Linked DNA regions of Homo sapiens: region 1 is linked to region 2. Evidence: fine-mapped expression QTL. A gene starts in region 2. The other region holds a variant in brackets. All regions are shown on one strand. Distances are between the middles of the regions.

Region 1 (8,437 bases), 54 kb after region 2:
TGAGACTGCTTTCCACAAGAGGTTGCTGCTCCAGCCTGACAGCCCCCCTGCCCCAGGTGGAAGGGCACCCTGTGCTTGACTGTGTCCGCTATTCCCTGGTCTGCACACCCTGGGCCACATAACTGGAGGGGCCTGGGGACAACTCTAAGGCAATGCCGAGGAGCTGGTGTGGAGCGGGGGCCATCACAGCTACACACGCCCCTGCCAGTTCTGAAACTGCCTGGCTGTGGGCAGCCCCCCATAGGGCAGGGCTGTAGGCCGAACTGCAAGGCCAGGGAGATGCCTGTGGTGGCTGGAAAGGCCAGGAGAGTCTGAATGCTGAGTATGACGCTGAGCGGCCCAGAGAGTACCACCTGATTTGGTGAGGGCGTCTGCTGGAGGGCGTGATTGGTGAGCCCTGAGGGGATGAGAATGCGGCCTTGAGGCAAACCCACCCTGGTGGCTGCCCGGGTCTGACCGAGGGGAGAGATGCTCAGAGGAGCCAGGGGGAATCCCCTGTGGAGATGGGTCTGGCTCCAGGCTTGGCTGAGTATTTTTGCTCGCTTAGTGATTTAGCACTTTTGGGAAGGTGAGTCCACAGAGATGAGCCAGGACAGGGGACCTAAGTCCGGCCTTGCGGCCTGGGCCACAGGGATGCCGGGAATCTAGAGGAGAGCTTTCCACAGAAGCCCCCAACCTCCATCCCTGAGGCGCGCAGGACCCTGACCTTCAGACCGGAGGAGGGCAGGGGGCATGACCTTGGGCCCCAAACCTGGCTGAGGCCTCCAGCTCTGGAAAAATGAAACTGCTATGACCCTCCTTATCTCCACTCACTGCCAAACAGAGCCATAAATTCCGATTAGGGAAAGATGCTGGTTGGCAATGACATACAAAAAATTCGTGATTAGTGAACTGTAAAAGCTAACATGACATGCTCATAATTGGGATGTATTTACTGCGCGAAAAACGCCACGCTGCCATTTGGGCAAAGTGACTTTGAGGGAACTTTCTCAAGGAGACTGACACAACTTCCCTCTTTTGCTTACCAAACAGCAATAACCATTATTGATGGTGTTTTTCAAATGGCAGCTACAGAGAGAGAGGGGCTGTGATTTCTTGTCAGAACTGCTTTATGGGGTTGTATTTTCCAGGTGTTTAAGGAACCCTGTTCATTTGCGGCATTATCCTGGGTGATTTATGGACCTTCAAAGAGCTTACTTCATTTCAATGTTTTAGGCGTTTCGCTTCTTTACAACAAACCTTATTCCAATACAATCAATGGAGGTTTCTCCTTCTGGCCGGGGAGGGAGTGCCGTGTGGCTTTATAGCAAAATCAATATGAGGATAAATGGACAACAAAGAAGGTCCACTGTCAGAGTGGAAAGAGGCGTGTAAGTCCCTGGCCCAGCAGCAAAGCCATCAGCAGGGGCTTGTCCAGAGCCTGGCTTTACAGAATGTGGCTGCCAGGCGCGCTCCTCATTGACCAGCCCAGAAGGACTGGGAGCAACAAAGTCAGACAGTTGAGGAGAGGGCTCAGTCATGCTTTTCTTAAACATAGTAATAAGTTTGTTTATAAGCGACCCCCCTGCAAGTCTCATTAATGTTTGATGCCGTTCAAATGTGTATTTTCTAATTAAGGTAAAAAAATGATTCTCAAATACATCAAAGTTCCAACATTTGCTTTCTGGGGGATGAGAAAGCAGATGAGTAGCTCACAGCTGGGCCTAAATGTCTCCTAAAGGAGACCTGGCAGCAGCAGAGTCCCTGGAGGAACCCCAGGTTTTCTTGCTCACCCTTTTCCCCCAGTCAATGTCAGGGAAGTCCTCGTATTTTCTCTGGAGACATGGAGGGGAACCATAGCGTGTTGCTGCTTTCAGAGGGTCTTGGAGGTGGGGGAGAGTGTGGGACAGAAAGATGGGGTTCACCATGAGGTAATTGAGGTAATTTAAGACAAATGCAAGCTGCTTTTACTGGAGAAGGAAAACCTTTATGCCTCTTGAGGTCCCTTGGTGGAACATAGCAAATATTGAATTAATGAGCAAACAAAAGAAGGTCAGGCTGGAAACGAAATCAAGCTCCAAGCAGAGTAGATACACATGTAGGGGGTACCTTCCTCCCCTGGGCAGCCTCATTGTGCAGGCAGACGCTCACTGTCCCACCAGCTGGCCTTACATTCATTCTCTTGTGTGTTCATTCAGTGAGCACCTAGGTGGGCCAGGGCCTGCTGAGGACTCTGGGAACACAGTGGCGCACAGGACAGGCAGGCTGCTGCCGTTAGGATGCGCACAGTCTAGAGCAGGAGGAGATTCTAAAGAAGTAGGCATGGAAATAAATATAAAATTACCGGTGATATGTCATGAAGGAAAAGGACCAGGTCCCTTCCCTGGTCCTCAAAACACCCCTGCTACCTTCTGACCAGGGAGATCACTGTTGTTCCTAGTGCTTGATGTATTCACCCCCATCCCCAGGCCTTTATTTAAGCTAGTTCCCTTATAATCTAGTAACCCTCCACCCCCTAATACTCTTTCTAAGGAAGGCCACAGAACACTCAGGGCTGCCACTTTCCCCTTCTGTGTCCCATCTTCCCAGACAGCTCGAGTGGGCAGGGAACTTTTAAGGTTTGGCTCTATGTTAGTTCCCATGCTGAGCACTAAGGACTTAGTGGTTAACACAGAGATACAGTTCCTCTATTCAAAAAAATATACACTCTCATCTTTGCTCTAGGCACTGTTCAGTGTTTACCCCCCTGCTTTGGGCTGTCTCTGTTGATTTTATGCATTAGAGTCCCAGCAAGTCTGCAGGTTCCCAGAAGTTCCTTGGTCTCCCCTGCAGCACATCTGAGCATAGGGCCAGACACAGAGTTGGGGGTCCTACTAGACTTGCTTCTACCTGCCCTAGTGGACAAATTACCTTGCTCTAAACTGCAGTGACTCTGTCACTAGTCTGTAAACTTCTAGAGGGCTTAAGTCATGTGTGGCAGAGATGGCTGACTCCCTACCAAAATCCATTCTCCTCTGGCCATGGCAAAGAGTTGTAGATGGAAAGTCTATCCAGGAACTGCATTTTCCAGCCAGCCTCTATTCTTGCACCCTCATCCCTATGCATCTCAGCATGGGTGTGAGACCAGATTTTAACAATAGAATATGAACAAAGGTGATATACATGCTGCTTCCAGGCCAAGTTCTTTCCCTTTTATCAGCTGGCTGATGACCACAAGGTCCTAGGAGATGGCAGAGTCACAGGATGGAAAGATCCTGGGTCCCGGAATCACTGAGTGGAGAACAGCTGTCCACCCACCTGGGACCTTGGCTTTAAACTCGTTTATAAGCAAGAAATAAACCACCATTTATTAGTGTTTGAGTCTTTATACATATTGAGGTGTTTTTGTTATAGTAGTACAAATAGACCTTAACTAAAATGCCATTTCTCATTCCTCACCTGGCCTGGAATATAGGGAACACTAAACAAAACCATGACAAATGAATAAATGAATGCATGGTTAGTAGCTACTTCCTGGCTTACATTAATAGCCTCCAGAAGGAGGGACTACAGTCCTATGATATCAAGAGTAGAAAAGTGAGCAGAAGTAGCGTGACTAGTCTTGGATTAGATTTTAAATTTTGTGGTGGCTGGGGTGCGACAAGGGAGGATAGTTCTAGAAACAGATCCCAGGAGCTTGTTCTCCTGGATCTGGGCACCAGGGTGAGCCCCATGCTTCTGGCCCCTGCCGGGATACACTTTCTCTGAAAATGGCTCATCTCCCTCTGCCTGTTACTTGTGAGGGAATTGTAACTTAGCCAGAGCACGTCTCTGAAATCATCATGCTTTGCTGGTTTTGTTTTTAAACTTAATTACATATAAACATATATAGAAAAGCAGAGCAAATGATGTAGTGAGCACTCATATGCCTATCCCTAGATTAAGCTAATGTATATATCTTGCAGTATTTGCTTCATCTTTTTTTTCCTAAAGTATCTAAAAATAAATGACAGGTATTTTACCCCTATTTCAACATGCACTTCTAAAAAAATAAGATACTCCTGGCCAGGCGTATCCTGTAATCCCAGCATTTTGGAAGGTCGAGGCGAGTGGATTACTTGAGGTCAGGAGTTCAAGACCAGCCTGGCCAACATGGTGAAACCCCAGCTTTACTAAATATACAAAAATTAGTTGGGTGTGGTGGTGCATGCCTGTAATGTCAGCTACTTGGGAGGATGAGGCATGAGAATTGCTTGATCCCAGGAGGTGGAGGCTGCAGTGAGCTGAGATTGCACCACTGCACTCCGGCCTGGGCAACAAAGTGAGATTCCATCTCAAAAAAAAAAACAAAAAAAAACCAAACTCCTGTATAATCATAATGCCATGATTATACCTAACAAAGTTAACAGTTTCCTGACACCATCTAATACCTTGCCTGTGTTCAAATTTACCCAAACGTGCCTTATAGAAAAGGTTCTTCAGACTGGTGTCCATCAGGGACCAAGCTTTGCATTTGGTTGTTGCCCATGACCATCGGAGGAGCCCAGCAGTCAGGGTCAGTGACTCCTCTAGTCCTGTGGGGTGAAGATGTTTGGATGTGGCTGCAGGACTAAAAGGATAATTATTCATTACTGAGAACAAGCACAAGCACATAATCATAACATTCAGGAATCCATCCCTGGTAATTTATGGCCCCAGTAGTTGAGCACTTATGTCTCTAAGTGCTTTACATCATTTATTAGATACACCCGGGAGCCCCAGCAAGAGCAAGTCAGCATGACCAGGGTTACATGCGGCAGAGCAAGAGACACGGAGTGGCCCATGCAAGGTCACCAAGCTTGTCTGGGCCTGAGTGTGGGCAGTGGCCTCTATACCCAAGGCCTGGCCCCAAGAAGCCAAAGCCCAGCCTGAGAGGGGCTTGGGCACCACCAGGCCCTGGCCAAGCATTTCCAGGCCTAGGATTAGATTTGACCTCCTTCCCTGTAGGGGAAGAAGGATATCAGCTGAAGAAGCCTGGGGACAAATATAGTTTCTCATCAGGTCATGGGCAGGACACCAAAAATCCTAAGTCAGGTCACATTTTAAATGCACGAAGGAAGTTATGCTCAAAGTCCAGCTGAATCCTTCCCCAAGGTAAAAGATCCTTTTGTTATGTGAATAATTTATCTCTAAAGTATCAGATTTCTGTGAACTGGGTTTTCTGAAACTGAGCAAAAAAACACAGGAGTTAAAAGCATGGACCTTGGAATCGAACCCCCTGGATTCCAGACTCTGCCTTCCCACAGGTGACTCACGTGCTTAATCCTCAGTTTCCCCCTCTATAAAATGGGGATTATA[TAA/A]CTCTACCTTATAGAGAGATTATGAGGGCCATATAAGATAATGCTTACCTTAGTGGCTGGCATATAACCAACAATGTTGGCTAGCTGTTATCATTACCAATTGTTAATTTATTAACCAGACAACCGGCCAAAATTGTACAGGAGTTAGCTCAGGTCCAAGGACTCCTAGAGGTCACTCAGGCTATACTAAAACCTGGAAGAAGTCCTCCTGGCACGATGGCCACAAGCTTGGGTTCCTGGTGGGATGGGGATGTCAGAACAGGAGAGGGGAGCTTAGGCTTGGGAGGGTGTCTGGGGCTGGTCTAGGCATCATCCATCACCAAGAAGAATCCCAAACGTAGATCTTATCCAAAGTTCAGCCAGGATGGAGACTTTGTCATGCTATTTAATCTCCTTGTAGTGTTAGTTTCCTTGTCTGTCAGATGAGGATAGTAATGTCCACCTCCCAGCGTGGTGACGACAGAATGGAATTTAGTGTAGAAGTTCTTTGCCCAGGGATTGGCATTAAGTACTCTGAGGTAGCTGCTCTAGGTGCTGACCTGAATCTTAACTCTCCCTGAGGGGTTAAGAGATGGTGGCTGCCACCAGGAGCAGTGACGCTGTAGTGTCCTGACATCCTTCACCAGGTCCAGGGCCCGTCTGGCCATTCCCATCTCCACATTCCAGGTCAGGAGTGGCGAATTCTTGTTGGAGAGTCCTCCTGCTGGGGTGAGTGGACTCCTGGCTCCAGGCGCTCCCTGCTGCAGAGTTCCCTCTCTCTGGAGCAGTTCAGTATGTTCCTGCTTGGAATTCACAGCGGGCTGCCTCTGCTCCCCCACCGCATTATTTTTCGAAGCAATGATCCAATGAAGCAATTACTATTCCAATCGGGATGGAGATCTCTGCAACCCACAGCCAAGCATGGCCTCTGTGGCGTCTGTTACTCTCCTTATCTCTCCCCGGGCCTCCAAAGACCATCTCCATTTTCATGCCCATGGACGATTTATAACAGCTGCAACAGCAAGGCCAGGATCCCCTCTGAGCAGAAACTTTTCTTAAGAAAAGGGGTTCCGCATTACCCCACGCATCTTTGTGAAGAAGCCTTTGATTCCACCTGTCCTGTTTGGATTCTGAGTGTTTTTTCTTCTTTGGAAAGTAAACTTAATTACAATTACGTTTTGGCTGGGCCTGGTGGCTCACGCCTGTAATCCCAGCACTTTGGGAGGCCGAGGCAGGCAGATCACAAGGTCAGGAGATCGAGACCATCCTGGCTAACATGGTGAAACCCCGTCTCTACTAAAAATACAAAAAATTAGCCGGGCATGGTGGTGGGCACCTGTAGTCCCAGCTACTCGGGAGGCTGAGGCAGGAGAATGGTGTGAACCTGGGAGGCAGAGCTTACAGTGAGCCAAGTTTGCGCCACTGCATTCCAGCCTGGGCAACAGAGCAGGACTCCTTCTCAAAAAAAAATTTTTCATTTTTCATTTTTTGAGACAAGGTTTTTCTATGTTGCCCAGGCTGGAGTACAGTGGCACCACCATGGCTTACTGCACCCTCGACCTCCTGGGCTTAAGCGACCCTCCCACGTCAGCCACCTGAGTAGCTGGGATGACAGGCACATGCCACCATACTCGCTTAATTTTTAAAAACTTTTTGTGGAGACAAGGTTTCACTATGTTGCCCAGGCTGGTTTCGAACTCCTCGGCTCAAGAGATTCTCCCACCTGGACCTCCCAAAGTTCTAGGGTTACAGACATGAGCCACCATGCCTGGCCTTACATTTTTTTTGAGACGGAGTTTCACTCTTGTTGCCCAAGCTGGAGTGCAGTGGCGCAATCTCAGCTCACTGCAACCTCCGCCTCCCGGGTTCAAGCGATTCTCCTGCCTCAGCCTCCTGAGTAGCTGGGATTACAGGCGTGCACCACCATGCCTGGCTAATTTTTTGTATTTTTAGTAGGAACAGCATTTTACCATGTTAGCCAGGCTGGTCTCGAACTCCTGACCTCAGGTGACCTGTCTGCCTTGGCCTCCCAAAGTGCTGGGGTTACAGACATGAGCCACCGCACCTGGCCTACATTTTATTGATAAACAAATTATGGCTACAGAGTTTAATTGTGGAACAGCAGTTCTACAGTGCTTGATTGGACATTGTTGGTATATGAAATTACTGCTCCAAGGTACCCTCTAGCACAAATAATTCCAGAGTGGAAGGAAGTAAGATGGGGTAGCCCCCAGAGTTGCTTCATATCTGATTGATGGTGTACAGACCTGGCCATGCGGATCCACATTCCATCTTACATGGCAGAGGTGGATCCCCAGCCTGGAACTGTGAAGAACAGGGACAGGCAGCATCCCAACCATGGGGAGCATTTAACTCCAGCCATGGGATCTTTGCACTTTGAAACAAGCAGTGTGGGCAGGGCGATGCTTGACCCTCTCTATGAAACCTTCCACTCTCACTCCTTCATCCCCTAGAAGTGTCCCTCCAAGAAGCTTAGCTGGCTTGGGCTCTAACCGGCCCTCCTTGACCCCTACCTCCCCTGGAAGCCTTTTCTGGTTAAAACCACTGGGACGACTATGCCTGGTCCACTCTTCTGTCTGGCTGCTCAGTGAGTTCTAGTTCCCCAGTGTTGTATGCCCCTGTAGTCCATGGGCCTCGGCCATTTCTGTAATGAACGTGGACCAACCTAGGACATGGGTAGCAGAGTCCTTGCTCCCCCCTGCGCAGGTATGTGAGCAGATATTCTTGAGCTTCATAAGAGGTTGAAAATCTATGCATCTCGGGTTTCCCAGTTCCGAGGCATTGAGTGCACATGTTGGTGGTTCTTGATTCAAGAAATTGCACCCAGGGTGCCCTTTCACAGGGAGGACAATTGGAGTTCATGCCTGGCCCCTTCAGACTGTGGTGAGGCACTCTGGCAGTGATAAAATTCCTGACTGTAATGCTATTGCTGTCTTATATCCTCTTCTTGCAATAAACCGTAGACTTGTAAGCACTGTCATTTTGGTCCTGTGTGTCTTGTTTAGCCATTGAGCCCTGTCTAACTGCCACCGCAGGTCACTTTTGCTGGGGAAGGGGGGTCTTGGAGGGACCATTTCCTGACATGCTGCAGAACTTCTCCCAGCAGCCCCGCCTGAAGCCGTCTCAATTGCCTGCCGAGT
Region 2 (8,437 bases):
AGTAGATTTGGGTAGGCTCTCTGGGCGGTGGGATAATTATAGTTGTTTTATAAGCCCACTGTAGTATGCCTGTTGGTCAGATAGTGCTAAGTAACAAGGATTGAAGGGCCATGTAGTTTGGACCCTGCTGATAATACCTGGAACAGGTTCTGAATTTGGTGTTAATCTTTCTTGTCATTTCTTTCCTCCATTCCTCCTCCTTTCCTCTCCCTCATTTTTCTCCCTGCAGGTATTAAACTGACACTGTCAGCTCTTCTGGATGGCAAGAACGTCAATGCTGGTGGCCACAAGCTTGGTCTAGGACTGGAATTTCAAGCATAAATGAATACTGTACAATTGTTTAATTTTAAACTATTTTGCAGCATAGCTACCTTCAGAATTTAGTGTATCTTTTAATGTTGTATGTCTGGGATGCAAGTATTGCTAAATATGTTAGCCCTCCAGGTTAAAGTTGATTCAGCTTTAAGATGTTACCCTTCCAGAGGTACAGAAGAAACCTATTTCCAAAAAAGGTCCTTTCAGTGGTAGACTCGGGGAGAACTTGGTGGCCCCTTTGAGATGCCAGGTTTCTTTTTTATCTAGAAATGGCTGCAAGTGGAAGCGGATAATATGTAGGCACTTTGTAAATTCATATTGAGTAAATGAATGAAATTGTGATTTCCTGAGAATCGAACCTTGGTTCCCTAACCCTAATTGATGAGAGGCTCGCTGCTTGATGGTGTGTACAAACTCACCTGAATGGGACTTTTTTAGACAGATCTTCATGACCTGTTCCCACCCCAGTTCATCATCATCTCTTTTACACCAAAAGGTCTGCAGGGTGTGGTAACTGTTTCTTTTGTGCCATTTTGGGGTGGAGAAGGTGGATGTGATGAAGCCAATAATTCAGGACTTATTCCTTCTTGTGTTGTGTTTTTTTTTGGCCCTTGCACCAGAGTATGAAATAGCTTCCAGGAGCTCCAGCTATAAGCTTGGAAGTGTCTGTGTGATTGTAATCACATGGTGACAACACTCAGAATCTAAATTGGACTTCTGTTGTATTCTCACCACTCAATTTGTTTTTTAGCAGTTTAATGGGTACATTTTAGAGTCTTCCATTTTGTTGGAATTAGATCCTCCCCTTCAAATGCTGTAATTAACAACACTTAAAAAACTTGAATAAAATATTGAAACCTCATCCTTCTTCTGTTGTCTTTATTAATAAAATATAAATAAACAGGGCATTTGTTTAGATTTATTTTGTCTTCATGCTCTGTGTATTATATATTATTCGTTTTCACTCACTGTACAACAGATTACCATATGTTTAGCAGCTTAAAACAACACTCATTTATTTCACAGTTCTGCAGGTCAAAGCGAGGCAGGTGTGCATGCCTACCTGGACTGTGCTTAGCTTCTCACAATGCTGGAATTAGGGTGTCGACCAGGCTGTCTTCTCATTTTATCTGGGGGCTTGGCGTCCTCTTCCAGGCTTTCAGGGTTGTGGTGGAATTCAGTTATTTTCAGTTGTAGGACAGAGGTCCCTATTTCTTTGTTGGCTGAGCCACTCTCAGTGCTCAGAGGATGCCAGCATTCCTTGCCATGGGGTCCCCTCCATCGCCAAAGCCAGAAACAGAAAAACTCCCTCATGTGAAATCCCTCTCACACTTCCAGTCTCCTCCAGGTAGAGCCCCAACTCTTTTAAGGACTCACCTGATTAGGTTAGGCCCAATGAGGGTAATCTCCCTTCAAGTTAACTGCCAGGTAAAGTAACCTAATCACTGGTAATATCCTTTCATGTTTGTAGGTCCCTCCATATGGGTCATGGGAAGGGGTGATTTTGGAATTCTCCCATATATTTATATGTTTTTAATAACTTGATGGTGGATTTTTTTTTTTTTGAGGCGGAGTTTCATTCTTGTTGCCCAGGCTGGAATGCAATGGCGCACAATGTCTGCTCACTGCAAGCTCCGCCTCCTGGGTTCAAGCAATTCTCCTGCCTCAGCCTCCCCGCCTCCTGGGTTCAAGCAATTCTCCTGCCTCAGCCTCCCGAGTAGCTAGGATTACAAACATTTGCCACCACACCCGGCTAATTTTGTATTTTTAGTAGAGATGGGGTTTCTCCATGTTGGTCAGGCTGGTCTCAAACTCCTGACCTCAGGTGATCTGCTCACCTTGGCCTCCAAAAGTGCTGGGATTACAGGCGTGAGCCACCACATCCAGCCTATTGTGGAAACACAAATAGTAATAAACTCTATGCATGATCCAGCTTCAACAAATATGAACATTTTTTTCCATTCATGATTTTTCAGCAGAATTCCTTTTTTTTCTATGTTTGAAAGTGACATTCAAAACAGGAACCATCTATTTTAGCATTTTATGCAACTGATCACCCAAAAACTGTGGGCCTCAGTATTTGTCATACTGTCTTCAGGGACTTGCAGCTATTTCTAAGTGAATGTTCATAGAATTTATCCAGAGATTATGGCACATAGTGGTTGCTGGGTACATCTAGTCAGATGTCAGGTACAGTATTAAGATATTTTACTTTTAGAGACAGTCTTACTCTGTCACCCAGACTGAAGTGCACTGTCATCATCATAGCTCACTGCAGCCTTGAACTCCTGGGCTCCTGTGATCCTCCCATCTCAGCCTCCCGAGTACTTGGGATTACAGGCATAAGCCTGGCCCTAAAATATTTAAAAATGTATAAAGGGTTCTCTTGAGTATGAGGGAATATTTCCCTCACTAGTTACTTATTGTCTGCTTGTTGCATGCAGCATGTTGGAATATCATTGTGCAAAATGCTTTGAGTTCATAATATCTCACCAGTTAAGAGAATTGAGACAATCTGGTATGAGGACACAAATGGACAAAGTGGACAATGAGTCAGGGAAGAGGACTGCAGTGTGTTTATTATAGATTAACTTTAAAGTCAACAAGCAGAAACTAAGATTGAGAAGCTCATTTGTTGAACTGAGTGGTTTTACAGAAAACTTAAGTACCGCTCAGAGAAGGGAAGCTCCTGGGGGACTGGGAGGACTTTGCACCTTGGCTAAAGTGGAGAGTTTGCAATAAGGACACCATTCAGTCTAATACGGGCTTCTGGGGGATTTCGGGAAATGTGCAGATGAATGACTTCTTAGTTTTCTTAACACAGAGTTTGTGTGTTTCTGAGCTGTCACCAGGGTGAGATAAAAGCTTAGGGGAAACCAGATTCAGGAGTAGAACACAGGCCCTTTAGAGAGACAGCTCAGCTGTGTCTCTGGGGGATAACAGCAATCTTCGCAGGGAATCATAGAGACCAGAATGGTGAAGCTGTGGGCACAATAAATGTCTTGCTTAACGTCACATTGATTTTCCTGAAATTGATCAAATGGAACTTTTATGAATTGAAGCCTGTATCTGTTTATTAAGGAGACATTTACAGAACGTACACACAGAGCAAAGTATGGCGCCAGGGCCCTAGGTGAACTTCTTGGAAGTTTGTAAGTTTGCATTTTTATACACTGGGGATTTCAAGTAACAAAATTTAAAAAGAGAAGCTTATTTTAGGAAATCTGAAAGTTATTTTCAATGGCAGCCCCTCACCTCTACTTCCTAGCTACCTTCCTTTCTTTTCCTCCATAATTTTTTTTTTTTTTTTGAGACGGAGTCTGTGGCCCAGGCTAGAGTGCAGTGGCATCTCGGCTCCCTGCAGCCTCCACCTCCCGGGTTACAGCGATTCTCCTACCTCAGCCTCCCGAGTAGCTGCGATTACAGGCACGCGCCACCACGCCTGGCTAATTTTTGTATTTTTAGTAGAGTCGGGGTTTCTCCATGTTGGCCAGGCTGGTCTCCAACTCCGGACCTCAGGTGATCTGCCCTCCTCGGCCTCCCAAAGTGCTGGGAGCCACTGCACTAGGGCCGGTCCATAATATCTTTATCATCTTGTATAGTGTGTATTTTACACCATATTCGCCCTCACAAGAAAATAAACTGCCAAGGCGGGCGGGGGGGTGGGGGGTTCTTTTTGTTCACTGCTGTATCTTAAATAGGGAGAGGTGCTAAATCTTTGTTGAAAAAAAATAAATGACTGTCGGGAAAGATTTTTAAAAATTACTTATAATCCCATCACCGAAATAGGACTACTTAACATTTGTGTTTCTTTCGCCTTTGAGAGAGGAAGAGCAGTTACTTCGCTTTCGTGATCAGTCTGTTCTACAGCTGGATCTTCCTTTTTAAAATGGCTAAAAACGCTATTTTTGGCTGTATAGTACCCAATCATGCAGGCGGCAGGGAGGGGCTCGCTTTGGCCCTCTTCAGCACGTCACACCCTACCTTTAATCCGCAGCCAACTGTGTGGCGGTCCCCACTTTCGCCTAGCGGCAACTCCCTCCTCCCTGCAATCCTTCCTTCTTATTCCGGTTTCCAGAGCACGTCTCCAGGCTTCGACGTCACCACGCTGGGACGTATGTGCCGAGGGCCGCGGCGTCTGACCTCATGGCGTAGAGCCTAGCAACAGCGCAGGCTCCCAGCCGAGTCCGTTATGGCCGCTGCCGTCCCGAAGAGGATGAGGGGGCCAGCACAAGCGAAACTGCTGCCCGGGTCGGCCATCCAAGCCCTTGTGGGGTTGGCGCGGCCGCTGGTCTTGGCGCTCCTGCTTGTGTCCGCCGCTCTATCCAGTGGTAAAGGGGGGCGGCAGTGTGGGCTTAGGAAGGCTAGGAGGGCTCGGGCGCAGGGCAGGAGACAGGCCGGGCCAGGGAAAGGGCGCTTCCAAGTGTCAGGAGCAGACGGCGGTGTCTGGTTGGGTCAGGGTCTCCGCGGGCCTGAGGACGGAGGGTATGGTGTCTGAAGGGGTCCAAGGTGGTAGGGTCTCCAAGGGGCCTGAGAAGCGGGGTCCCTGAGAGATGCAGGAACCCAGGGAGCAGGCAGCAGGGTGTGTAGATGGGCGGGGAGGGAGGAGTGGTGTTAGCGCCTAGAGATCGTTGAAGAATGGGCTGCCGCAAGGAATGGCGGTGGTGGGGTCTCCAAAATTTCTTGGATCGGAAAGTTAGGAGACTCTGGAAGAGAGGGTGGCGACAGGGGCTGAGGAGGTGGCCGGGGCTGGGGGTGTGGTGTCTGGAAAGGGTCCTGAGTTTGGGGGACTCAGGAATCTTGCAGGACCAAGGAAAGGTGGGGGTTTTCCAGAATGGGAGAGGTCAGTGGTAAAGACCGAGGCGGGCAGGGGCAGTAATCCAGTGACTGGACTGAACCAATGGAATATTTCCGAGAGGGAAAGTGAAAGGGAAAGAGCTGTCTTAGGGTACTGGTGCATATTTGAAGACTGGGAGGTTCTGGTGTTTGATAAAGATTCAGAGTACTGGGGCGTTGGGCCCCTGAAGGCTTGGGAGGCAGAGAGGAGTTTGGAGACAAGGGAGATCATGATTCCTCTTCCCTGTGTTCCGAGTTAACCAGGATAACCCTGCCTCGTTTTAATGCATCTGTAGGATTTGATTGATAAAATATTTCATTTCTTGCAAATGTTGCATGGTGAAATCAAGAGATTGAAGGCTTTTATTGAGAAATTAGGAAATCTGTAAACCAGTGCCTGATACTTGGTGGGAAAAATCCACTATTAAGAACTTGTAAGGATTAAACGGTATTTTGTTTAGTAGTCCCATTTTTCTTTCAGGCCAAGACACAGTCCTGCGTTTCTCCCTAAATTTGAATTTTCAGCTGCAAAACAGTGTGACCTGGTATAGTGTTTTCTTTCTTGCCAGCAGGGCCTGTCCAGCCCTACATTCCTCTGCGACAGTACTGTGGGTACATACTTATGTTTCCTCAGCAACATTTCAGTGTTGCTAACTGGACGCCCTCCCAGAAGTCTTTGCAGTCCCTGAGGAAGGACTGCTGTCCATTTCCTAAGGCCCTTTTATCATTAGTGAAATGTAATGAGGATTTCCCTGGTTGATGCAGATATTCCCGTTCCTAAAGTACTTAAGTAGCTTAATTGTTTTGGCCATTTAATCATCTAAGAAAAATAAAACACAAACATTTATATTTCCTGCTGGAATGCTTAAGGGATATATATCTGGCAACTGTAGTTTCAGAAACAGCTTTTTTCCCCTAAGAGATGGTTGAAAATTGGGCAAGAAGTGAGGCAGAATGTGGACTGTTAAGTGTCCTTTAGTCTCTGCTTTTATTTGTTAGAGCCCTATAAATATTTTTCTAACTATACTGAGACATTTTAGAGAATCTTTATCTTTTAAATTAAGTCTTTACATACACCAGTTTAAAATGTCATAAATTCAGATTATTCTGTCCTGAAAAGAAGCTAAATGAAAACGAACATACATGTCTTTAATAGGCGAGCAGCTCCACTGCACTACAGTGTAGCTTGGGATATAAGTATTTTTTGTAAGCATACCTTATAATTTCAAAGTAGTCACTCCTGTAATAAGAAAATTAGTCTAGAATGTGTTGAGTTCCAAATTTCAAGTGAGTTTACAAAGGTAGAAGGTTACCACATTAGATTTATTTAAATTTGTTCCATATTAGGTTTTAAAAACTGTCAATGCTTGGTTATATGCTCGTCAGTCTGTAAGAATTTTTGTTTTATGTTTTTGTTTTGATCAAGTCTAAAAAATTAACATAAGCAGTTTGGATCACTGGGTGACTAATTCTTGGTCATGCCATTTCAAAAATGCCTGGTTCTCTACATTTGCCATTATATTGTCCCCAAATGATCACCTAAACTTAATGTATAATGCATTTCATTTTTAAGGCATTGTTTCTCAAACCAGTGTGTGAATGAGTTCTCGGGGTCCTCTGCATTCTTAAGTTTAAGAAATGCTGATATAGTTTTATTTTAGGGCAGTTTTTAAAAAGGGACCAGTAGAAGGGGAGAATTAAATTTATAAAGTTTTGTTTTTTGTTTTTTTTTTGAGTCTGTCGCGAGGCTGGAGTGCAGTGGCGTGATCTCGGCTCATTGCAACCTCCGCCTCCCGGTTTCAAGTGATTCTTCTGCCTCAGCCTCCCGAGTATGCTGGGACTACAGGCGCGCACCACACCTGGCTAGTTTTTGTATTTTTAGTAGAGACGGGGTTTCACCGTGTTATCCAGGATGGTCTCAATCTCCTGACCTCGTGATCCGCCCGCCTTGGCCTCCCAAAGTGCTGGGATTACAGGCCTGAGCCACTGTGCCCAGCCTTTTTTGTTTGTTTGTTTGAGACAGGGTTTTGCTCTGTCGCCCAGGCTGGAGTGCAGTAGCACAAACTTGGCCCATTGCAACTTCCGCCTCCTGGGCTCAAGCAGTCCTCCCACTTCAGCCCCCTGAATAGCTGGGACCACAGGTGCCTGCCACCGTGCTCAGCTGATTTTTGTATTTTTGTAGAGATGGGGTTTTGCCATGTTGGCCAGGCTGGTCTTGAATTCCTGTGCTTAAGCGATCCACTTGCCCTGGCCTCCCAAAGTGCTAGGGTTACAGGCGTGAGCCACCGTGTCCGGCCTAAGCTTTATTTTTAAAATGTTAAGCTTCAAGTAGAGAGGTAATATCAATTAGGAAAGGGAAGATTTAGAAGTCTTATTTATATGCTCATAGAAGGTCAACAGTTAAATCCGTAAAGTCAGAGTTGTACCTTTGTTCTGAATACTCTTCATATCTGACTTAATCAACTTCTCTGATTTGAAGGAGTTTGAGTAAGTTGATAGCCTTTGTATTACATGTTTCAGGTCAATTATTTGTTTTTTCTTGTGCTGTATTTGTGTATTACTTCCAAGATTTTACTGCTTGACTAAGACATTCTGCTCCTACTTGGTGCTAGGTATTGGAGTTAAACAATGAATAGGGTGATACTGGGGGTATCCTTAGAAGAATGAGTGGCGTTTTGCTGAGAACCATGGCATGGGCTCTTGAGGGAGTGCAGTAGGTGCATAGATGCTATGTGGGATGTGGTGTGGGATTTGTGGTGAGAGTTGAATCGAGAGCATATTCAATAAATATTTATTGAGTGCCTGCTATCTATTAAGTAGGTAATGGGGATAGAGCTGTTAGGGAGATTAGTAAGATAATGAGAGTGAGGTAATGGGGGCCAGATCATGTAGGATCTTGAAGGCTATTATAAAAATTTTCACTTTTGTGAGAAATGGATGGCCCTAGAGGGTCTTAAGTAGAGGAGTAACATTTGATTTAAGTTTTGACAGAATGACTCTGGCTGCTGTGTTGAGTATAGACAGTAGAAGTTAGGGTGGAAGCAGGCAGATTAATTAGGAGGCTATTGTAATAATCCATGTGAGATAATGGTTACTTGGATGAGGCAGGAGCAGTGGAGGGTGAAAAGCCCTCAAATGCTGCATATGTCAGAATAACAGATTGGATGTGGGATGTTAAAAAAAATGACAACTCCAAGGTTTTTAGTTTTAGTAACTACAAAGATGTAGTTGCCATTAATTGAGATGGAGACTAAGTAGAACAAGTTTTTTTGTTTTTTGAGTGGGG

Which allele goes with the higher level. Positions count from the first base shown, and alleles are read on the strand shown. Sizes are in standard deviations (SD) of each study's normalised expression.
In carriers of allele TAA in region 1, the expression in ileum of the gene that starts at base 4,467 in region 2 tends to be higher than with A alone (moderate effect, 0.51 SD a copy in CEDAR).

The links. PIP is the estimated chance that this variant, and not a neighbour inherited with it, causes the effect. A credible set is the group of variants that fine-mapping cannot tell apart.
Region 1: its variant is the best candidate, but not a certain one, in a credible set for the expression of C5orf15 in ileum (CEDAR, PIP 0.82).

What each region holds. Positions count from the first base shown.
Region 1 is chr5:133,910,905-133,919,341 of GRCh38, reverse strand. WSPAR (Wnt signaling pathway activating non-coding RNA) reads right to left here and starts at 5,665. Exons shown (of 3, transcript NR_131252.1): 1 at 5,346-5,665; 2 at 4,420-4,567; 3 at 2,073-2,287. The variant TAA/A (reference allele first, on the strand shown) is at 5,296.
Region 2 is chr5:133,964,655-133,973,091 of GRCh38, reverse strand. It overlaps C5orf15 (chromosome 5 open reading frame 15), which reads left to right and starts at 4,467. Exons shown (of 3, transcript NM_020199.3): 1 at 4,467-4,646. The coding sequence starts at 4,508. It overlaps VDAC1 (voltage dependent anion channel 1), which reads left to right. Exons shown (of 9, transcript NM_003374.3): 9 at 230-1,221. The coding sequence ends at 321. It overlaps LOC105379183 (a long non-coding RNA gene), which reads right to left and starts at 4,403. Exons shown (of 2, transcript NR_134247.1): 1 at 4,300-4,403; 2 at 2,869-3,341. RefSeq lists enhancers at 4,324-4,543, 5,174-5,273.